Regions from separate parts of the Homo sapiens genome. Here region 2 is reported to be linked to region 1. The links are microRNA targets in miRTarBase. Many come from high-throughput screens and were not tested one by one. Region 1 holds a microRNA gene; the other region holds the end of a gene's coding sequence.

The links. The annotated mature microRNA hsa-miR-6883-5p reads AGGGAGGGUGUGGUAUGGAUGU and lies in region 1 at 7,334-7,355, opposite strand. An mRNA with a match to its seed (bases 2 to 7 or 8) in the 3' UTR can be bound and repressed. Matches are read on the target gene's strand: a 7mer-m8 pairs with bases 2 to 8, a 7mer-A1 pairs with bases 2 to 7 and ends in A, and an 8mer does both.
Region 2: the mRNA of GIPC1 is a reported target of hsa-miR-6883-5p. Seed matches in the 3' UTR shown: 7mer-m8 at 10,252-10,258, 7mer-m8 at 9,958-9,964 and 7mer-A1 at 9,888-9,894.

The regions. Positions count from the first base shown.
Region 1 is chr17:8,137,712-8,148,788 of GRCh38, forward strand. MIR6883 (microRNA 6883) reads right to left here and starts at 7,360; the gene lies at 7,283-7,360. It overlaps PER1 (period circadian regulator 1), which reads right to left. Exons shown (of 23, transcript NM_002616.3): 8 at 10,933-11,075; 9 at 10,470-10,548; 10 at 10,286-10,392; 11 at 9,963-10,116; 12 at 9,759-9,867; 13 at 9,539-9,670; 14 at 9,186-9,291; 15 at 8,883-9,054; 16 at 8,661-8,791; 17 at 8,247-8,426; 18 at 7,040-7,282; 19 at 5,555-6,165; 20 at 4,938-5,124; 21 at 4,558-4,747; 2 more. The coding sequence ends at 3,357. TRS-CGA1-1 (tRNA-Ser (anticodon CGA) 1-1) reads right to left here and starts at 1,251; the gene lies at 1,170-1,251. It overlaps TRT-AGT5-1 (tRNA-Thr (anticodon AGT) 5-1), which reads right to left and starts at 1,814; the gene lies at 1,741-1,814. RefSeq lists silencers at 1,121-1,180, 1,201-1,370, 1,731-1,780 and an enhancer at 2,178-2,856.
Region 2 is chr19:14,467,987-14,479,063 of GRCh38, forward strand. GIPC1 (GIPC PDZ domain containing family member 1) reads right to left here. Exons shown (of 9, transcript NM_005716.4): 8 at 10,698-10,779; 9 at 9,776-10,581. The coding sequence ends at 10,430. PKN1 (protein kinase N1) reads left to right here. Exons shown (of 22, transcript NM_002741.5): 16 at 1,355-1,531; 17 at 1,766-1,828; 18 at 1,926-2,002; 19 at 2,177-2,319; 20 at 2,589-2,696; 21 at 2,785-2,865; 22 at 3,595-3,873. The coding sequence ends at 3,798. PTGER1 (prostaglandin E receptor 1) reads right to left here and starts at 7,368. Exons shown (of 3, transcript NM_000955.3): 1 at 7,276-7,368; 2 at 5,393-6,351; 3 at 4,480-4,840. The coding sequence starts at 6,334. The coding sequence ends at 4,574. RefSeq lists enhancers at 3,713-4,361, 7,353-8,021, 10,361-10,876 and silencers at 4,199-4,288, 8,438-8,920.

The DNA of each region.
Region 1 (11,077 bases):
GGCAAGCGAAGAGTGTTTCTAATGGAAGAGTGAGCATCGGTATCAGCTTCCACGAAGTAATGGTCAATAGATTTAGCAATGTGATGATCATTCGGCAACCTTAACAAGGGCAGCTTTGATGGGGGCGGTGGACACCTGATTAGCAAGGGTCCAAAGGAGAGTGGGAAGATGGAATTGGATAACTTGCTCTGTTTGCTGTAGAAGGGAGTAGAGAAATTGAGTGGTAGCTGGACAGGCGTGTGGGGTCAAGATAGCTTTTGTTGTCTTGCTTCTAAATTGGGGGAAATTAGTGTCTGTAGGCTGAAGAGAAAAATCAAGTAGAGAGGGATTTTTTTTTTTTTGAGATGGAGTTTTGCTATTGTTGCCCAGGCTGGAGTGCAATGGCGCGACCTTCGTCTCCCGGATTCAAGAGCTTCTGCTGCCTCAGCCTCCCGAGTAGCTGGGATTACAGGCGTGCGTCAGCCACCACGCCCGGCTAATTTTGTATTTTTAGTAGAGATTGGGGTTTCACTGGTCTCGGACTCCTGACCTCAAGTGATCCACCCGTCAAGCCTCCCAAAGTGTTGAGATTACAGGCGTGAGCCACTACGCCCGGCTGAGAGGGAAATTTTGATGGTATAGGAAAAAGCAGTGTCTTTGAGATGGCCAGAGGGATGGGAAATCTAGTAAAAGTAGGGGTTGGCTTTAGGTGGAAGCATTCTTCTACAATAATGAAGGAAAAGAAGAGTACGTGGTCACCGACTCAATTAGGTAGGTAGGTAGGTAGGTGCGATGTGAATGTTGATGGGGAACTCCGGAATGGTTTATTTTCTCAGTGAATCAGGAAGTAAAAGCTGAGAAGGGATTCGTAGTTTGAGGTGAGGGTAGGAATGAAACAGTCTCATGGGGCAGTATGAGAGTGAATGAATTGGAGGAAAGTAACGATTGCTGAGTAGCACTAAGGAGCCACCCGAGTGTGGTGGCGTTAGGAATTGAAATCCGCAGTAAAAAAGTTTTTGCAGGTCGATAGGACTATGAGAATCGCAAGAGGGCGCTCGCGGGCTGGTCCCTGACGGCCGAGTCTCTGAGATTCTCAGAATAACGCGGGAGATTCTCCAAGGAAAGAACCAGAAAACAAACTGCTTTTTCCTTCTCCAGAGACCGAGATACCTAAATACCAAAACTAGTGACGCTGTGAGCAGGATTCGAACCTGCGCGGGGAGACCCCATTGGATTTCGAGTCCAACGCCTTAACCACTCGGCCATCACAGCCGCGTGCGCTGTCGGCCCTGTGCAACTATAGCTGCCTATCAACACGCCCGCCTCCAGCCGGCTCCGCCCGGCTCCGCCCGGCTCCACCCGCGCCGCCTAGAGACGTCTGCGCTCGTGCGCCTCTGCTCGGTGGCGCAGACCATGCCTTCCCTCCAGCAGACGTCAGCAGCCCCATTGGAGCGGCAGCCTTCCTATTCTCCCTCTCCTCCCTGAGCATAGGATGGAAACAAAACGGGTCCAAATCCGAGCCCTGTCTTCCATACTCTTGAGGACAGACCCTGAGATGCCTACTTCAGGCTACTTCATGAAACCGAAGTGAGAATCTGTAGTTTCCAATACACACTAAAAGTGCAGGGAAACGGAGGTCCAAAGACGGATTGGCATGTAAGAAGAATCTTAGGGAGAGTCTAGAAGAAATGTTTCTTAGAAAGGCCCTTTGAAAGTGGAGAAGTGTACTTGCAGCAATAATATATCACTCCCCGCTAACTCAGGCACCGCTGGGATTCGAACCCAGGATCTCCTGTTTACTAGACAGGCGCTTTAACCAGCTAAGCCACGGCGCCGGCGTAAAACAGGTGTTCCTCAAGATAAATCAACTCTTAGTGGGTGACAGTAAGTGAAAATCAGCAAACTGCCTGCAGTGGTTCCTCAGTGACTCATCCCTTCCTAAGGTGCCTCTTCCCTTTCAGGTTCTGAGCCAAAGGGTTAATGCTTTGCTTCTCCATTCTTCCACACCTTTGGGGCCAACTCAACCATGAGTGAGCACATGACTCCATGTGTCCCTTAGCTACCTAGACTGACCTGCTGAAGGGCCCTCTCTGTGTGGTGACCAAGAAGCCAAGGAAGGCCGGGCGCGGTGGCTCACGCCTGTAATCCCAGCACTTTGGGAGGCCAAGGCGGGCAGATCACCTAAGGTCAGGAGTCCGCGACCAGCCTGACCAAAAATGGTGAAACCCCATCGCTACTAAAAATACAAAATTAGCCGGGCGCGGTGGTGGGCACCTATAATCCCAGCTACTCGGGAGGCTGAGGCAGGAGAATCGCTTGAACCCGGGAGGCAGACGTTGCAGCGAGCCGAGATTGCACCATTGCACTCCAGCTGGGTGACAGAGCGAAATTCCGTCTCAAATAAAAAAAAGGAAGCCAAGGAAGACAAACACCCTCGAATACCTCAGGGCACCACGGAGTTAAGCAGGGTTCCTCTGCCTTGGCCACCCGTGACCCGGGCTGGAGCTTACCCAAGCCCTTGGCCACACGCACCTCTCAGCTCTCCTTCCCAGGGCAAACCCAGCTGAGGCCATGCTAGAGGGGACAGCAGAGTCTGAGCTGGACGTGGACGTAGCGGGCTCAGCAGGGCCCTCACCTGGACAGGATGGGGGAAAAGAGGAATGGGGGTCGTCAGGAGATGGCCCTGTACACCCTCACTACAACCTTCCCAAAAGCAGGGCCACATCTCCCCTTGACATGCTCCCCTCACCCCAACCCCAAACTTCATTCCACAAAGTCCTGGGCGTTTTTATCTTTTTGTATTAAAAAAGTAGTAACAGACACAAATATCAAAAACACAAATGCCATCGGCAGAGGGTACAGCTGAGAACGCCTGGGTCCCACCTGAGGGGCAGCACCAGGGACTCCATGGTCCACCAACCTCCCCCACTCCAGAGCAGCTAGGGGCTGGAACCCCCGGGTCCTGCTTGGGCCTCAGGCTCTCCTCCCATCTGGGGAGGAGGTGGGAGAGAGAGCTGTCTCCCCGCAATAAATAAGTGCAGCCCCAACCCTCAAGAGTCAGATTCAGGCTCAGCTGGAATATGGAGAGGCCACTTCAGCAGCTTGTCAGCAACTTTGTCCAGGGGAGGGAAGGATTCCTCTCCAAAGGTGGGAGGTGACACTCCTCTGGGCTGGGCTGCGGAGTTCTGCTCTCTGCTCCCTAAGAGGCCAGAGGCAGCCCCTGGATCCTAGGCTGGTGATGGGGGTCCGGCCCCCTATGGTGGGAGAAGCTGGGGCAGTTTCCCACTGGTTGGTCTAGCCACATCTGAGTTCTGAGAATTGGGACATAGGAGAAGAAAGCCTCTCATGGACTCCTGGAGATGGTCCCAGAATGGAGTCTAGCTGGTGCAGTTTCCTGCTGTAGGTAAGGCTGGACTGGATGAGCTCCTGCCTTCTTCCTCCTCCTCCATAGCCAAGTCCTGAGAGCTTGAAGCCTTGGCCCCGCCTTGGGCCTCCTCGCAGCCCTCTCCCTCACCACTGCCGCCACCGCTGCTGCCCTGCTCGCCTCCACCCTCTTCCATGGGCTCCAGCCCCAGTCCATCCAGCTCTGAGAAGAGTGGGTCATCAGGGTGACCAGGATCTTGGGTGCTGCTCCCACAGTCCACACAGGCCTTGGTGAGAGAAATGGACATGAGAGAGTCAGACAGGGTTCTCACTGCTAACCTGCCAGCGCAGCTTCCCACCCCCAGCCCACTGTGCTTCCCGAAATGTACTCCCAAGAAGCACCAGTCCACACAGATGCACCTGCGGTCCAACAAGGTTGGACAGTGCCTTGTGCCCTCTACCCAGATGCCGTTACAGGACAGTCACAATGCATATTAGCATAGGATAGGCTGTGAAAAGTTCTGCAAAGACTCACGCGGCTTAATATTCTATAATCCACAGCAAATTTAGTGGAATCAACATTCTTCAGAATTAATGATCCAAGGACATCAAGGAGATCAGCTCTTGGCCTCGATCCCTTGAACTTGAGCTCAATTCTTTTTTCTCCCCCTTGAACTTGAGCTCAATTCTTTTTTCTCCCCCTTGAACTTGAGCTCAATTCTTTTTTCTCCCCGTCCCAGGCTTCTCTCACCATCACATCAAGAGCCCGAGGCAGTTGGCCCTTCCGGACCCAGGAGTGCACAGCACCCAGTTCCCGCCGCTGGTCCTCAGAAAACCGAGGCTGCTGCTTCTGCATGGCTCGGAGCCGCTCCCGATCCTGCTTCAGCACAGAGGTCATGTCCCTGCCCAAGAAGGGGTTCAGAAGGCAGAGGCTGGGATCCAGGACCCGGACCAGGACCCATGAAGCTGGCATCCTTCCTCTACCACAGCTTCCCACCTCATGCTCCTCCCCTAAACTAGTGCTATGCGAGGTCAAGGCTTCCAAGACCAGGAAACCTGCTCTCCTCCTGGGAGGAACTAGTAACAGGGCTCCAAGGAGCAGGAAGAAAGATAGAAACGTTTATCCTATCCAGGGCAGAGCCAGCCCCAGAAAAGAAAACTGCCCCCACTACTACCTCTGAAAGGAAGGCCAAGAAGGCCTCTGAAATGCCTCACCTGGAGGGCACCTGGTAGGTCATCATGACGCGCTGGTCAGCATTGGCCATGAGCAGCCAAATGGGATCCTGGAGCACGTACTTAATCACCTGGTCCCCAGGCTCAGCCCCGCCCCGAGCAGCCCCAGCCTCAGCCTCGGAAGAGTCGATGCTGCCAAAGTATTTGCTTGTGTGGCTGCTCTGGCTGCTGCCTGTGAAGTGGGGGGCAGACCAATGGGAGTCAGGCCGGCTGCATGCCCACTCCTGGGACCTCACAAGGCCTCCCTCAAAGGCCACATGTCCATCCCAGTGGCCTTAGGAAGCTCCGCCAAGACGGGGCCTGGGCTCCCGGCTCCCCAATCACTGCCCTACCCTGGGAGATGCTGGAGGCGGGGTACTCACGAGTGATGCTGGCTGAGGTGCTGCCCCCTTCATGGGAGCCTGAACCAGACCCAGAGCCCAAGCCAGAGCCCAAGGAGCCCGAGGCTGCGGAGCCTGTGCCGGAGCGCGAGTCCTCTTGCAGCAGAAGTTCGAGCAGGTCACTGGAGCCGGAAAGTGCGTCCTGATTGGAGGACTCAGTGACCTCCGCCTGGAGGAGGGGAGGGGGGCAAGGAGGGATGGAGGGGTCAGCACCTAGGCCTCCCTTCAACTGCTCTTACTGGTTGTGGGGAGAGGCACATCCAACCCCAGTGGTCTCTGCTCCCCACTTCGTGACAGTAGGGCCAGGCTGAGAGAGAAGAAAGCTGGCGAAGAGTGGGGATGTGAGGCCAGACCCTTTCCAAGTGACAGATGCTCTCTCAGAAGTTATTGAGATGTCCTCACCACCTGTCAGACAGACAGGACTGTCCCTTCAAAGAGGAGGTAGCCAATTTCTGCCTCATTCAGAAATTCAGCTGGGGACTCCCTCCACCTCCTGGAGGCTGAGACGCCAGCCTGGCAGAGACAGCAGGCAGCACAGGGTGGCAGAGGGGCGGGGCTGGGGTGGGGGCTGGCAGGCAGACGCAGGGGTCAGTGCTCACCAGTCTGGCCTCTGGCTCAGCAGCCTCCGCACTGGGAGGTGGGGGCCCGGCACTGCTCCCAGGGCCTCCTGCAACAGCAGCCCCCTCAGCACGGGGGAGCTCCTCCAGCTGCAGCAGATTGAGCTGGAGTGGAGAGCTGCATCTCGAGTTGAACAGTGGAGAGTCCGGGCGGTGAGGAGGACTCGGGGCGAGGGCGGGCAAGGATGGAGAAGGGGAGTGCGAGGCAGGAGTGGGAGGCCCTTCAGCAGGGGTCTGGAGTGCCCCATAAGGATAGCTGGATGGGGTTGGGAACAGATAGTTAGGGAGCACCAAGGCCACCATTGGGGTCACCAAAGGGGCGGGGAAAGCAGCTGGGGGCACAGATGTGGGAGCAGGGGGAAGAGGCTGGGGGCCTCCTCGAGGAGAGAACACTGGGAGAGGGTAGGGCTGGACAACCGCTGGGAAGGGGGTAGTGGCTGGTGGGGTGGGCCAGGGGGTGGAGGGTGGCACGGGTGAGGGGTGTGAGACATAGCAGGGCGCTTCAGCCCGAGGGTTCTGGTGGTGGCGTGAGCGCTTGGCTTTGGATCGGCAGTGGTGTCGGCGGCTTGGGGGTGCGGGGCCGTGGTGGCAGCCTGTGGGGAGAGACTAGGGTTAGCAAGGACCTCAACCTGGGGTTAGTACCCCTGCTACCCACACTGCCCTGACACGCTGACCAGGGAGAGGACAGGCCAAGGTCCCAGAGAGAGCTTCTCAACCCACACAGAACGGGGGACTCAGGAGGTGGGGCACCTTCAGGGAAGAATCACAGGAGCCAGGGACAAGGGGATTTATTGAGAAAGGAACAAGGCCAGGGAGAGGTTACACGAGGGGTCGAGCTGGGGGTGTGCGGAAGATGGAGGCATGCTGGCAGATGGAGGAAGCAGGGTGAGTCCATGGACACATGGACAGATGGCTCTGGTCCGCCAAACTCCTGTGGGCACTGCCAGCCTAGGCATTCCTCCTGCCCATCGAGGCCGTATTCTGCCTAGCTTGCAATGGAGTGAAGAGTGGGGCTGGAAAGCCCAGTCCTGAGTCCTGCGTCTGCCTGCAGGGGATCTCCCTCAGGCACCTGGAGGGGCTGCCTTCCACCTGCCCTTGAAGCCCAGACCCCACCCAGAGTTGGCCCAGAATCTATGCATGTCTCTTCATCAGTGACAACTGACTCCTAAGTGGGCATACTTCCTGCCCCTGCCCCCAGGCTAGGCCTGAAGTCGCTTACCTGGAGACAGCACCTCTGCCTGCCCATCCCAGTGCCATCCCCCCAGGCTGCCCTCCTCTGGCTGCAGCCCGGAACCCCATCCTAGTGGGGAGAAGCTAGCGAGGGGCCTGTCCCTAGGCAGGGCCTAGTGGTGGAAGCAACACCAGCCTGGGTCCCTGGAGCAGAAACACCTCCCTTAAGACCCACCCCCCAACAATCCAGTCCTAGACTGGGCAGAGGGCAGGCTCCAGGAGGCCCCAGGTGGCTACCTCGCTCGCCAAGGGCTGAGGGAGCTGTGGAAGAGCTGTCGAGTCCACGCAGCCTGCCCAGGTCTCGGAAGCGGCTGAGGAAGGCTTGCTCTTCCTTCTGTGTGTGCAGGGACAGCACGGCCTTGGTCAGCCCCACTGGACGGTAGGCGTCTGGGGCTGGGTCAGGGGCTACTGTGGGGCTGGGGGCTGGGCTGGGGGCTGGGCCTGGGGCTAGGCCAGGCAGGTCCTCCATCATGATGATGTCTGAGGAGAGTGAGATAGGGAAAGGTCATCAGAACCACTTCAGGGGTCAACACATCCATACCACACCCTCCCTGTCTGATAGCCTAGCCAACCCCTGGCAGCTCTGCCCCACAGCCAAGCCTGGTCTCCATGTACGTTTCTTGGTCACCTCTCTGCCAACGGCTGGCCCTGGGTCCTCCTCTCCATGCAAAGCTGGCCCAGAAGAAGAGACGATACTCAGGCCCCTCCAGTGGCCACTCCCTGCCAGGAACTCTACTGGGATGACCCCGTCACAACTCTCATTGGAAGAGAAGCCCACCCCTTGGCCTTCCCTCACACATTTTCTTGTTTCTTTTTTTTTTTTTTTTTGACATGGAGTCTCACTCTTTCTCCCAAGCTGGAGTGCAGTGGTGCGATCTCAGCTCACTGCAACCACCACCCCCTGGGTTCAAGCGATTCTCCTGTCCCAGCCTCCCGAGTAGCTGGGACTACAGGCGCGCGCCACCACGCCCGGCTAATTTTTGCATTTTTAGTAGATACAGGGTTTCACCATGTTGCCCAGGCTGATCTCGAGCTCCTGATCTCAGGTGATCCTCCTACCTCAGCCTCCCAAAATGCTGGGATTACAGGCCTGAGCCACCATGCCCAGCCCCTCATGATTTTCAAGGTCAATATCCAAAGACCCTTCAGGGATGTTCAATTTTCCTTGCCTTCAGACCCTGTGTGGTCAGCACCTCAGGGCAAACCCTCTATCCCAGACTCTGTGTTTCAACTGACAGTAACAATACGAGAAGCAGAACAGGGGAAGGGCAAAGCCGAGAAGCCTGGCAGGGAGGGGAGAGCAAGAAGCAGTAGCCCCAAGCCCCAGGTCAAGGGAGGCCTCCTTCTCTCCATCAGGCCCTAGAGGGGAGGGGAAAGGCAGGAGGGAGCTCTAGCTGGGAGACCGGTGGAGCCCAAGCACTGCCCCCCAATTCCACACCCATACCCGACTCCGGGGGCTTCTTGTCTCCCACATGGACGATGGTGGAGCTGAAGCTACACTGACTGGTGACGGACACCACACTCTCCGCCTTATTGGCCAGGGCGAGCGGGCTCAGGGTGCCTCCCACCACTGGCTCCTTCCGTGGGGTGGCCCCCTCCCCAGACAGCGCTGCTGACGGCGGATCTGTGCAGAGAGATGGTGCCAGTTACCATCCCCACCCCCACTGGGAAGTCAGGAGAGAGGATCCCAGGGAAAAGGGGAAGGGGATGGTGGTAGGGAACAGAGGGAACAGTCTGGAGACCAGGAGGCTGGGGAGGAGAGCAGGGCAGAGCAAGAGGGCCCAGAAGCAGAAGGGAAAAGACACAGGGCCACCAGGCCAGGACGGGGCAGTGGGAGCAGGGTGCATTGGATCTTTACCTTTCTTGGTCCCCACAGAGACTGGACCTGTCCTCTGCCTGTCGTCGTCAGAGGCTGAGGAGGTGGTATAGGAGGAGGAGGAGGCACATTTACGCTTAGTGGTGCTGGGGAGGTTGCAGCTCTCCAGGTACCTGGGGATGGACACAGCACAGGGCATCAGAGCAGGGCTTGGGGTGGGCAGGGTTAGAGCCCGAGGTGGAGAAGATGCCTGGCAGGCCTTACCTGAGGATGCTGTCCAGGCAGTTGATCTGCTGGTAGGAGCAGCTGGAGGCTTCTTTCCTCTCGGCCTCCTCAGGGACCAAGGCTAGTGGGGCCTGGACGGGAGCAGAACCCGCCTCCAGCTCTGGGTCTGGGGATTGGCAGGGAAGGGCCTTGGCCTTGAACGTGCCTGTAGCTGGGGCAAAGAGAGAAAGAGGAAAATAGCCTTCTCAAGCTCACATGGAAAAAAACAGCAAATGGGTTGGGGGTGAAGGTCAGGGGACCCCCCAGGTCTGTCTCTTCACCCACACATCATCATCAACTCACCAGGGAGGCGGGGCCGGGACTGAGGCCGGGCCCGAGACTCAATAAAAAGCTGCTGGCCCTGGTGCTTCACCAGATGCACATCCTTACAGATCTGCTGGAAAGTCACCTGTGGGACACAGCACCACAGTGAGCAGAACCAGGGGGTGTCGCCAGTGTCAGGGGCCAAGGGCACAATAAAACAAGAAGGTACCAGTGGGGAGGCACAGACGCCTTGATGGGAGCAGGACAAGAAGGAAAAGGCAGGAAGGAGAGGGCAAAGGAGGATCGGGCAAGACTCTGGGACTGGCAGTGCTGGTTCCAAGAAGGAGAGGGGAAAGGGCGATTAGAGGGTGAGGTAGGAGCAGGTCACTCACTGGCGCAGGAGGCCCAGGCCCCTCTGCATCACCCCCGTTGCTATCACTGGAGGACCCAGGGCTGTGGAGAGGGCCTGGGGATGTCACGGCGCCGACTCCACAGAGTCCCGTGGGGCTGGGGCTGTGGACGGGCTGCAGCAGGGAGAGGGCAGGTTAGATGGCTTGACCCGGCTTCCCACACCTTTTCTCACCTCCCAGGCTCCCTCTCCGCTACTCTCACCTGCAGCAGCAGCCGGTGGATCTGCTCTGACAGCTCCTGGATATCAGTGTCCAGGGAGGGAGCTGGGCTGGGGGCCGGGGGAGTGAACACGTCCTCATTCAGGGGGGCCCTGTAGAGTGAAGAGTGAATCCAGCCCTGGCCCGGTCCTGTCCCCCACCGCACTGCCCTATCCCCAACGCCAGCTCGGGGGCATGGCCCACTTACGTGCGTACTTTGTGGCGGCCCAACACGAAGGCTACCTTGCGGCTCCAGGGGTGCACAAAGCCAGCCCAGCTGGTGTCCATGGTGACATACTCCCCGTTGCGGGCACAGAAGCGGATAGGGGAGTGGTCAAAGGGCTGGCCCGCCAACTGCAGAACTGATGGAAGTGGGAAAGGAGGAGCGGTCAAAGGGAGGGAGAGCTGAGTAAGAGGGAGGCCATGCCACTAGAGATCCAGGAGACCAAGGCACCAAGAGACACAACCACAAGGGCAGCCACTCAAAAGCCCAGGACAGTGGGAAGGGCGAGCAGGGCGAGAGGAACTCACTCTTCTTGTGGATAGCCAGCATGAGGGGTCGGTCCTCAGGATGCAGGAACAGGAGCACTGGGGCCCCCAGGAGGTCCTGGGGCAGGTAGCCCAGCAGGGGGGCAGCCCTGAACGGGAAGGAGGCATCAGAGTGGCCGTGGCCTCAGCCCTGGCTGCCCTCGTCTCCTCTAGGTCCTATCCTCACCTTTCATCCACATCCTGGAAGAGGCAGCTGGGTGTGTGCCGCGTAGTGAAAATCCTCTTGTCAGGGGGTATCCGGGGAGCTGAGGCACAGAGAGTGTGGTCACTGGGTTTCGTCCAGAATGCCCAACTCCTCAGCCCTCCACTCTGCCTGGGCCCAGGCTGGCTGATGATCTGCCACACAGCTCTGCCCCGGGCACTATGGGCCCAAAGATGGTCTGGGCCAATCCTATGCCCTGTATCAGTAACATGACTGAGAGCAAGCAAGGCATTCTTCTCTGCCCTCCTCTAGCTTGGGCACCTTATTCAACTCTACCTCTAAGAGGAGCTCAAATCCTCATCTTTACAATAGCTTTTCTTGTTCCAAAATTCAAAGGGTGTGGTTCATGCCTCCCAAATTCATGTCTGGCCATGAGGAAATGTCCTTCCTCCCAGCCCCCACCAGGCCAGGGCCCTGACCTGCCCACCTTCGTAACCCGAATGGATGCGCTCTGCAATCAGCAGGCAGCACGGCTGTGCAGGGGCCCCATCTGAGACCCGGATCTTGGTCACATACGGGGTTAGGCGGAATGGCTGGTACCGAGGCCCTGGATCCCGGTCAGGACCTCCTCT
Region 2 (11,077 bases), not on the chromosome of region 1:
CTCTGGGGACCTCTTTCTTCTCTTTTGGGAAATGACAGAGCAGTTCTCTCCTTGGAGCTACAGGGAGAGTGACTCATAGTAGTCACTAACGCCAGGCACAGTGGCTCTTACCTGTAATCCCAGCACTCTGGGAGGCCGAGGCAGGTGGATCACTTGGGCTCAGAATTTCAAGACCAGGCTGGGCAACATGGTGACACCCCCATCTTTACAAAAAATACAAAATAATTAGCTGGGTGTGGTGGCACATGCTTGTAGCCCCAGCTACTCATGAGGCTGAGATAGGAGGATCGCCTGAGCCCAGTAGGTCAAGGTTGCAGTGAGCTGAGATCGCGCCACTGCACTCCAGCCTGGGCAACACAGTGAGACCCTGTCTCAAAACAAAAAGTCACTAATACCTACTAGCCTAATACCAAGATAATAATAGCTCTTAGGAAAGTTATTCATTTGTTCCTCCATGTAGCCCTATAAGATAAATACTGATGGCACAGAGAGGTTCAGCAATTTACCCAAGGTCACACAGCCAGTAAGCAGCAGGTCCAGGATTCAAAGCTAGAGACTCAGGCTCTGAAGCCTGTGCCCTTTGTGGTGCCACCATACTGCCTCTGCTTTAGGGTCAGGTTCCTGGGTTCAAATCTCAATTCTGCAGCATGGGCTTGGAGATCCTGGGGAGGTCACTTCTCCCTTCAGAACCTCAGCTTCTTGGCTGGGCATGGTGGCTCACGCCTGTAATCCCAGCACTTTGGGAGGCTGAGGTGGGCAGATCATCTGAGGTCAGGACATCGAGACCAGTGTGGCCAACATGGTGAAACCCCGTCTCTACTAAAAATACAAAAATCAGCCAGGCATGGTGGCGGGTGCCTGTAGTCCCACCTACTTGGGAGGCTGAGGCAGGAGTATCGCTTGAACCCAGGAGGCGGAGGTTGCAGTGAGCCAAGATCGCACCACTGCACTCCAGCCTGACTCTGTCTCAAAAAAAAAAAAAAAAAAAAAAAAGAACCCCTCTTGTTGTGGAGAAGCAGAATGCTATTGCCTTCCACACATGGTTGTCAGGTGCTCTCTACACAGTGCCTAACCCCTCTAAACATTCGGTACAGGCACTGAGATTGTGCCTGGTCTTCCCAGCATCCTTTTGATAATCAGGAACCCAACTGAGAAAGACTGAAACAAGTAAAGAAATTTATTGGTCTGGATCTGAAAAGTCCAGGAGTGTGCTACCTTCAGGCATGGCTGTATCCAGGTGCTGAGATGACGTTTCTCAGTTCTGCTTCCCTCTGTATGGGCTTTGGTTGCCATCTGGGAGTCTGGAGTAAGTGGCGGCCATGGTCTCTGACTTCTATCCCCCACCCCTCCCCAGCCTGATGTGTGAGAAGCGGATATTGGCGGCAGTGACCAGTGCGGGACACCCCTTCCTGGTGAACCTCTTCGGCTGTTTCCAGACACCGGAGCACGTGTGCTTCGTGATGGAGTACTCGGCCGGTGGGGACCTGATGCTGCACATCCACAGCGACGTGTTCTCTGAGCCCCGTGCCATGTGAGCCTGGACCCCAGCCCGGGCCCCTGCCTCCCCTACAGCATCTGACACTTAGTCCCCCCGAGAGGCTGGCAGCCTGCTTCTCACCCCTCCACCCTCAGGCCTTGCTTCCCTCAGCCTCCCAGAGCTTTGGGGAGACTGGGGGGCTTTTGAGGATGTGGAAGCCAGGCTTATGTGACCCTCCCTCCTTGCAGGGTGGCCCCACCCCTCTCAGCAGCCTCTCTCTCTCTGCAGCTTTTATTCCGCCTGCGTGGTGCTGGGCCTACAGTTTCTTCACGAACACAAGATCGTCTACAGGTGTGTGCGTGTGTGCATGCATGTGCACACTGCCCGTTGTGGGGACAGGACCCAGACCCCCGCTCATCCCTCTTTCCACCCCTCCAACCCCCAACAGGGACCTGAAGTTGGACAATTTGCTCCTGGACACCGAGGGCTACGTCAAGATCGCAGACTTTGGCCTCTGCAAGGAGGGTGAGGGGCTGGCCTCTGGATTAGACAAAGGAGGGGGAAGGAATGGGGTCCCTAACCCTATTCGGGGTGCCCCCCACCCTGACCCTGGGACAGGGCTGGCTGTGTGGACAACCCCACATTGGGCTGAGTGACTCCTCTGGCCCCCATAACCTCACATGGCCTTGCTGTCCCCAGGGATGGGCTATGGGGACCGGACCAGCACATTCTGTGGGACCCCGGAGTTCCTGGCCCCTGAGGTGCTGACGGACACGTCGTACACGCGAGCTGTGGACTGGTGGGGACTGGGTGTGCTGCTCTACGAGATGCTGGTTGGCGAGGTGAGACCCCGCCCCTGTGTGTCTCGGATCTCATTGGAACCTGCGCGTGCCCAGGGTGGGATCCAAGTCTGCCTCCACCATGTGTTGTGTGATTGAGGGCTGCTGGCTCTGCTTCCCTGGCCTCAGTTTCCACATCTATAAAATGGGGCATTTCCCTGCCCAAGTAAGCCAGCACCCAAGAGCTGCAGCAGAGTGTGGGGCTCAGGCCGGGCTGGGTTTGGAGCAGCCAGAGGAGGGGCCTCGTTCACCCCGGGCCTCCCTCTCCCCAGTCCCCATTCCCAGGGGATGATGAGGAGGAGGTCTTCGACAGCATCGTCAACGACGAGGTTCGCTACCCCCGCTTCCTGTCGGCCGAAGCCATCGGCATCATGAGAAGGGTGAGGACCCCCGACGTGGGGCGGGCCTGGGGAGGGGCAGTGGGGCCCAGGAGGGGACAGATCCTGACACAGTGCTCCTTCCTCCAAGCTGCTTCGGAGGAACCCAGAGCGGAGGCTGGGATCTAGCGAGAGAGATGCAGAAGATGTGAAGAAACAGCCCTTCTTCAGGGTGAGATTCCCCACAAGGACCTCAGTGACCCCGGCCCTCCCCCAGGGCCGATTCATCACCCCACAGCAGACGGCCCCCATGCCTAGCCGCTTTGCCTCAAGGGCCTCGTTGCGCCTCAAGGGCCTCGTTGCACCTCCAGGGCAACATCGTCACCTCCTTTGACACCCCCATTTCCCTCCTCCACTTTTGTTCCCCCCAAGGACCCTCCTAATCCCACATCTCCACTTTTCCCTTTTTTTTTTTTTTTTAGCCAGGGTCTCGCTCTGTCGCCCAGGCTGGAGTGCAGTGGCTCAATCTCGGCTCACTGCAACCTCCGCCTCCCAGGTTCATGCAGTTCTCCTGCCTCAGCCTCCCGAGTACCTGGGATTACAGGCGTGCACCACTCCACCACACCAGGCTAATTTTTGTATTTTTAGTAGAGACGGGGTTTCGCCATGTTGGCCAGGCTGGTCCTGAACTCCTGGCCTCAAGTGATCCTCCCGCCTCGGCCTCCCGAAGTGCTGGGATTACAGGCCTGAGCCACCACGCCGGGCCTCCACTTTTCCTAATCCGGCTTCTCCACCAGGCTCTCGCAGGTGATCCCTCCTGAGCCCCAGTCCCCCCACCCCACTTGTCCTCTGTATGCTCACTCCTCTCCGTGGTCCCCGAGCCCCAGGACTGGTCCCCACTGCAGCACGCCCCCTCCTCAGCCTCCAGGCTGACCCTCCCCTCCGCTTCCCTCCCCTGCAGACTCTGGGCTGGGAAGCCCTGTTGGCCCGGCGCCTGCCACCGCCCTTTGTGCCCACGCTGTCCGGCCGCACCGACGTCAGCAACTTCGACGAGGAGTTCACCGGGGAGGCCCCCACACTGAGCCCGCCCCGCGACGCGCGGCCCCTCACAGCCGCGGAGCAGGCAGCCTTCCTGGACTTCGACTTCGTGGCCGGGGGCTGCTAGCCCCCTCCCCTGCCCCTGCCCCTGCCCCTGCCCGAGAGCTCTTAGTTTTTAAAAAGGCCTTTGGGATTTGCCGGATCCTTGCATCCTCCGTGTCTTCTTGTGTGCAGTCATTGGGGGTGGGGGCGTGCTTGGAGGTGTGGACGTTTGCGGGGCAGGTGGCTGGGTGGTCGTGGGAGTCTCGACTGATGGGGGTGTCATCTGAAGAGGATCAAGGGGCGGCGTGGACTCGGGGCTGTTCTTATGGTGGGGAGCGTGGGTGAGCCGAGATGGGAGGGGGCGTCGGGATTGTGTTGGGGGGCGCCCAGGGGCGTGGGGCAAAATGGTTTGGGGATAGGGTTTTGGGGCTGTATTGGAAGAGCTCAAAGCCGCAGTGAGCAGAATGGTTTCGGAAGTCCGTTAGGGCAGCGGCAAGGTCAGGAAACGCCCCACACACCCTCTGTCTCTGCTCCCAGCGGAGCCCCAGCCCCGGCCGCCCGCACGGTGCGCTTGCTCCTGCGGCTCTGGCGCCCACGGGCCCGGCACCCTCGAACCTCCTAGAACCGCGCCCCCGTGTCTCCGCGCCCTCTTCTGGTAGGCCCCGGAACTGCATCCACCCTGGAGGCGCACGCGGCGTCCCTGCAGCCCCCCGCGCGGCCCCAGTGGATGCCGAAGCCCCGACGGGACACACGGTCCTGCCTGGGCTCGCAGAATGGCTTTTTATTCCCAAAGGCTCTGCGCCGCGCACCTGGGCCCAGCCCAGGGTGGGCTGGCTTAGTCGTTGGGCCTCTGGTTGTGCTTAGAAGTGGCTGAGGCCGCTGTGCCGGGAGCTGCGCAGCGAGCTGGCCTCCCAGGCGCTCGGTGTTAGGCCCAGCCCCGCGGGGCCGCCCTTGGCTCCGGCCCTCGGGGGCAAGAGGCGAAGCAGTTGGCGCAGCACGGCCTGGCGCAGTAGGATGTACACCCAAGGGTCCAGGATCTGGTTCCAGGAGGCAAGGCGCACGGCCAGGAACAGTGGCCGCTGCAGGGAGGTAGAGCTCCAGCCGCCGACGGCCAGCGCCACCAACACCTGCGGGGGAAGCCGGTGTGAGCTATAGAGCAGGCGCGGGCGCAGGGGGGCGCAGGGATGGTGGGGGCGTGGCTGGAAGGTAAAAGCCTGGGAGGAGGGGCGAGCCGTCGCAGGGAGGGTAAATGGGGATCCAGATGAGAAACGGATGCGGAAAAAAAAGGGGGGCAAAGAAACAAACACCTTCAGTGGGTGGGGGTCCGGCCGTAGAGGAGTCTCAGGTGTCCCGGAAAGAGGAAAAGCAAGGGGGTTGGGTGAAAGGACTAGGGAATGAAGCGCGGCGACTTATAACGGTGGGGCAGGAGAGGAGGCTTGTGTGGGTCGGGGTGCGCTACAAAGACCCCAAAAAGGAAGAGGAGAGGGGGGCTAGGAGGAAGGATGGGAGGTCAGATGGAGAAGGCGATGCTGGCTTTCGGGGCAGGTGGGGCCTCTAGGGGCCGGGGCCTTGGTTGAGTCCAGGATGGAGGCCCCAGGTGTCCTGGGACGACAAAGGGCGGGAGGGTGCCGAGAGGGAGCGGGAAGGAGCGTGGCTCGAGGGGCCGGTGCGCCCCTCACCAGCATTGGGCTCCAGCAGATGCACGACACCACCATGATACCGACAAGCTGGCCCACCATCTCCACGTCGTGGGCGCGAGCTCTGCGTGCCGAGCCGCTGCTCCGAGAGCCGCCAAAGAAGGTGGAGGCCGAAGCGATGGACGAGGCGGACGAGGCGGAGGCCGAGCGGGGTCCGTGCGCCCCCCAGCGACGCCGGCTGTCGGGGCCTGAGGCCGGGGGAGGCCGTCGGGAGCGGCGTCGCCAGCGGGCGCGTAGCAGGGCCAGGCCGCTGAGCGTGTTGCACACCAGCGCGGCGAGGAGCGCGACCAGGCCGAGGCTGGCGAAGAGGCCAGCAAGCAGTGCCTGGCGCCAGCCGCCCGGGGGACCCAGGCCGATGAAGCACCACGTGCCCGGGTACTGCAGCTCATAGCGGCCCACGCGCGCCAGCGGCAGCAGCGCCACGGCCAAGGCCACCGCGGCCACCGCGGCCAGCGCCAGGCGCGCGCGGGCGACCGAGACCCGCGCGGCGTGGAGCAGCGGCCGCGTGACGCCCACGCAGCGCTCCACGGCCATGCCACAGCCCAGCAGCAGCGGGCACAGGCCGAAGAAGACCATGCAGCCGCCCAGGAAGTGGCAGGCCCCGCCGGCCGGAGCGCGCCCCGCAGTGTACAGACGCAGCACCAGCGCGCCCGGGATCACGTGGCCCGCCAGGTCGGTGGCCAGCAGGCTGGCCACGAACAGCAGGAAGGTGGCGGCCGAGCGGCGGCGTCGCAGGCGGCCCGCGGCCTGCGCCAGCAGCGCCAGCGCCAGCAGGTTGGACACGGCGCCCAGCGTCATGGAGAAGATGGGCAGCGCGGGCGAAGCGCCCGACGGCGGCACGGCCGACGTGTTGGGGACCCAGGGCGCCGCGCATGTGGTCGCCTCGCCCGCCAGGCTCAGGTTGAGGGGCCCGCAAGGGCTCATGTCAGGCGCCAGGGGTGCTGGATAGAGGAGAGGAGGGCAGAGTGAGGCTGGCTGGGCCCGGGCGGGGACCAGCCCACGGTGCCATCTCAGAACATCAGGGCCTGTTTGACTCCATGGCGTTCTCAGGCGGCCCCTCTGCCCATGGCAGTTGCCATGGGCAACTCCAAATGACCTGGCCACTCCATTTGGAAACCCTTCTCCCTCTCTTTTGCCTCTCACCACCCCATCTCCTGCTCCAGGGCCTCCCTCTAACCCCACTGGCCCTTTCTCTGCCCTTCATGGTTTCCTGCAAGATTCCCCCCAGCCCCGCCCTCAGGCATCTCTGCCAGTGCCTCCGACCCCCACCTTCCATTTTTACACCCAGCAAATTCCTGGGGCCTGTGGCTCCATCTGATAGCTCTCACCCATTTCTGCCACTGTGGCCCTACCTGACTTTCCCCATGTCAGCTTTACTCCAGTCCCATCCTCGATGCCCCAGCCCCATCTCTACCACCACGGGCACATCTCTCCCCACGGCCATGTCCCTGTCCCCCATGGACCCATCTCTGACCCCACATGGCACAGCCACATCTGTGCCATGGACCCATCTCTGCCCCTGCCCCATGGACCTGCCTCTGCTCCACTGCGGTCTCTCGCCAGGCCCTACCCCGATCACCTCTGCCTCACCCTGGGTGCCCACGGTTCCACTCCATATCCCTGCCCCAGAGGCCTGGAGGCGGCCCCACGACCATCCACTCTTTGATATCCTGGTGGTGAGGGCTGAAAGGGCGGAACTGCCCACCAGGCCAGATGGGAAGGGAGGATGGACAGACGGTAAGACAGGGACGCACAGATCAGGGAGAAGAGCCCGGGGACACAGGACGGACAGCAGGTGGCCATGGCCCCACCCCTTCATGCCCTCCTCCTCCCCAATCAGGGACCCTCATGTGCAACCCCCTTACCCGGCACTGCCTGGGATGTGGGGTCCCCATCACCGGCCGCTCAGCCCTGCCGCCCACTGCGCCCTGGCTCTCCGGCAAGCCGCTTCCTCCCTCCCTCTTCCTGGGGCGGCTCCTCAGCTCCTCCCGCCGCCCTTGCTGGCCTCCAGGGGCCGCTCCACCCCGCGCACGCCCGCTGGGGGCCTGGAGTGGCAGAGACCCCCCTCTCTGCTCCTGGCAATGGGCGGGGGCCACTCTGGGCCCCAGCGGCTCCCTCCACGAGGAGTGAGGCTCCCTGGAGTTGGTCTGGCCCCATGTGACCCCCTCCTCCCAGCAGGGCGGGAGCAGCCCCCTTCCCCCCCAGGATCGGGCCTCTTGCCTCATTAATAAAGCGGATAAAATCTAAACACTGGAAAATGTGAGCGTCGTCTGGGGCGGGCTGGGGCAGCTGCAGGGGGTGCCACTGCCCCCCTCCCTGGGGCTTTGGAGCTAGAGAGGCTAACTCCAATTCTGTGGGGCCAGCAATGCCCCCCCTGCCCTGCCAAAGCCTTCGTGGATGTCGGGGTGGGTGCTGGTGGGCAGGGCCTCGGGTAGACCAGCTTGGGTCAGGCCCAGCCTGGCCAGGGGATCCGCCTATTTATACAGGGGCTTAAGCCCCGGCTAGGGCCACAGCGAGTCATATCCTGGGAGGAGGCTGAAAGGGGGCAGGGGAACCAGGAGGCCTGGCGACCTGGGGACTCTCCCCAGTGACTGGCTCCTTTAAGATGGGCTGAGTGACACCTGTGACACACGTCCTAAGACACAAAGACTCGCCTCCTGCCCTGAGAAGTAGGGTCACACTGGCACAGCCTCACACCCTAAGACATACAATCCTGTCACTTACCACTCAGTTTCATCCTGTCCCCATCTCAGCACAGCCAGGTTGCTGCCGCCACATCCCTGAACTCAGGGTCTTACCCCCAGCGCCGGGACGCACCCAGAGTTACTGCCTCAATTCCAGCCCCTCCCAACACCCCAAAATGCAGCCCTCTGAGATGATCACCCGAACCACCCTCCTTAGTGCTGGGAAATAGGGTCTCACTTGGCACCCCGAGAGATACACACACGCACACACACTCCTTATTGCCAAAACTGCCCCTGACCACACTCTGTTTGACTTTCAATGACCCCTCAACAATCCCAGACAGGCCCCACCAGCACACTCCGTACACCCAAGGCACAAGAAGTGACACCCCCCGCCGCTGGACACCAGAGACCTAGCTGGCCACCCCCACCCTCACCCAGAAACAGCAACGCCCTGAGACACACACACCTGCACCCCTAGAGACCCCTAGACCTAGCCAGCACCCCCACCCAGGAAACAGCAACACCCCGAGACATACCCTGACACCCCTGAACACCCCAAGGCCTAGCCAAGCACCCCTCCTTGCCCCAGAAACAGCACCCTAAGACACACACCCCCACACCCCGGGACACCCCAAGACACAGTCACTCCGTTGCACTCCCCACCACCAGACACTGCCAGTTACACCTGCAATTGCCCTGGAACACAGAGCCGGTTATCACATCCCTTACCCACGACACAGCCCTCCCTCATTGCGTCACGAGCCATCAACACTCTTGATAGACTCACAGTGCTACCCAACACCCGAGACACACATAGCCACACCCCTTCACCACCGCAAGCGGCTCCCAGCACAGACACCTGAGGAGCCCACAGGTGCCCGGGGATGCCCTGAGTCACCAGGACTGCGGCTCCCCGACTCCACCCGGGTCTGTCCACCAACACCCAGCCCCCAGGGTCTTCCCCTTTTCCCCCTTCCCCTCTTCCTGGTGGCCCAGTGCCCGCCCGCCTTTTGGAACGAGGATTGCAAGCTGGCCTCGGACTTCCCCACAGCCTCTCGGCTCACCCCCAAGCATTCCTGTGGGGCCTTCTGGCCCAGCGCCCCTTGCTTCAATCCCTTCCCTTCCCTCCAGGTCTGGCCAGGGTCCCACCCCGCCTTTCCCTGATCACCCTCAATCCTCGAAGATGAGTGGGTTGTCAAAACAAGTATGCTGGGTTTATGTCTAGGACAAAGCAGGGTGCCCCATGGACGCCTGCGTGTCCAGCATTGGGCCGGGTGGGGTGGGGGCTGCCTCACGCCTGCCCCCAACCTCCCGGTGTAGGGGTGGGGCTCTGGCAGGCCTGAGGTTCCATCTTTCTATTTCCAAGCCAGGTTTCAATGCCCTGGTGCTCCCCACGGTCCGGGGGTTGTCACCAGCTGCAGACAGCAGCCTTGTGAAGCTCCAGGGGGTAGGAGGCCTTGTGGGAGAGGGGGCAGGATTTGAACCCTCAGTAGTCCAGGAAGCTCTGGCCCTGCCTGGAAGCCTGGTGGCCTGCAGCCAGAAGGAACAGTGGGAGGGGGCAGGTGGCTTGGTGCCAGCTCCTAATTCAATTTGGAGCCTGCGGAAGATGGATTTCAGCTGCTGAATTCTTTCTCAGCCCCAATCTTCCCCCTCTCCCACCCCGAAGCCACACAGGTCCAACAGCAGATAGATTCTTTATGTTCAAGACAGCAAATTCAGATACAAAAACCCACCGCCATCGTCCCTCCCTCCCTCCTGCTCTGGGCCAGGGATGGGCCTGGAAGGAGAGATGGGAGGTGGGGAGGAGGTTGCGGGGTTCACAGCAGACTCGTGTCAAATGCGGAGGTAACAGGCTCCACAGGGAGGGGGCTCCTCTCAGGAGGGGTGAGGGCATTATTGCATTTGCTGGGGGGAAGGACAACCCTCTCCCCTGTATTCCCTGCGTCAGGAAACTAGGAAGGTCATGACCCCCAAACAGAACCCAAGGCCCCAGGGAGACAGAGGGACCAGTTTGGCAGCTGATGGTGGAAAGTGGTGGAGGCGGGGGTGGCCGCCCAATTTGGCTGATCCCTCCCCTCCCTGTGCCTGACCCAGCTGAGGTAGGTGGGGAACAGGGCACAGGGGGGCCGGGGACCCCGGCCAGACTGGGAACCAGGGAGGGGATGGTACCGATTGGAGCGGGGCAGGGGGCCTGGCCCCACCTCCCCTCACCATCGTCCTTGGGCTGCTGAGCTAGGCTCAGGCTGGAGGCTCGGGTCCTGACGTCAGTGTCCCTGCTGGGGGCCCCCACCAGGTTGCGCCCGGGTCATCATCGCAGGGTCCGGGGGCAGTCCTAGTAGCGGCCGACCTTGGCGTCCCCAATGGCGCCCCAGACGTCAAAGACGAACTCGTCAGGGAAGGCAAAGTCACCCAGCCGTTCGTCCAGGGCCTCGGCCAGCTCATCCGGGTTCCTTTTGTCCTTTCCCAGCTCCACCATGGTGGCCGCTATTGGGGGAGGGGTCAGAACGGAGGCACAAATGACACCAGGGACCAAGGGGCTCAGGGTGGATTCGGCCCCCAGCAGACCTAGATGCCCCCTCCCCCAGGCAGCCCTCACTCACCCAGCTCCGTGTCCCTGATACCCATGTAACTCTCCAGCAGGTCATCCACCTTCTCAATGGCCTTCTCTTCAAAGGCAGAGGGCTGGGGGCCAGGGAGGGGTGACAGCGACATCATAACAATGTGAATATACATAGTAATTGGACGGACTGCCATTGTCACCACTTTACATATATTCGTATTTAGACCTCAGGACAACCCTGAGAAGGTGGTATCGGTGTTCAGCTCATCCCCATTTTACTGATGGGCAAACTGCGGCCCATGTGCCCAAGGAAGGTCCCTGGGAGCTGGGAAGTGGCAGAAGTGGACTAGAATCCAGGCTGTCTGCCCAGAGTCCCCTCAGCTAACAGGTAATGCTGCCGGTTATGAAAAGGAAGGGAGG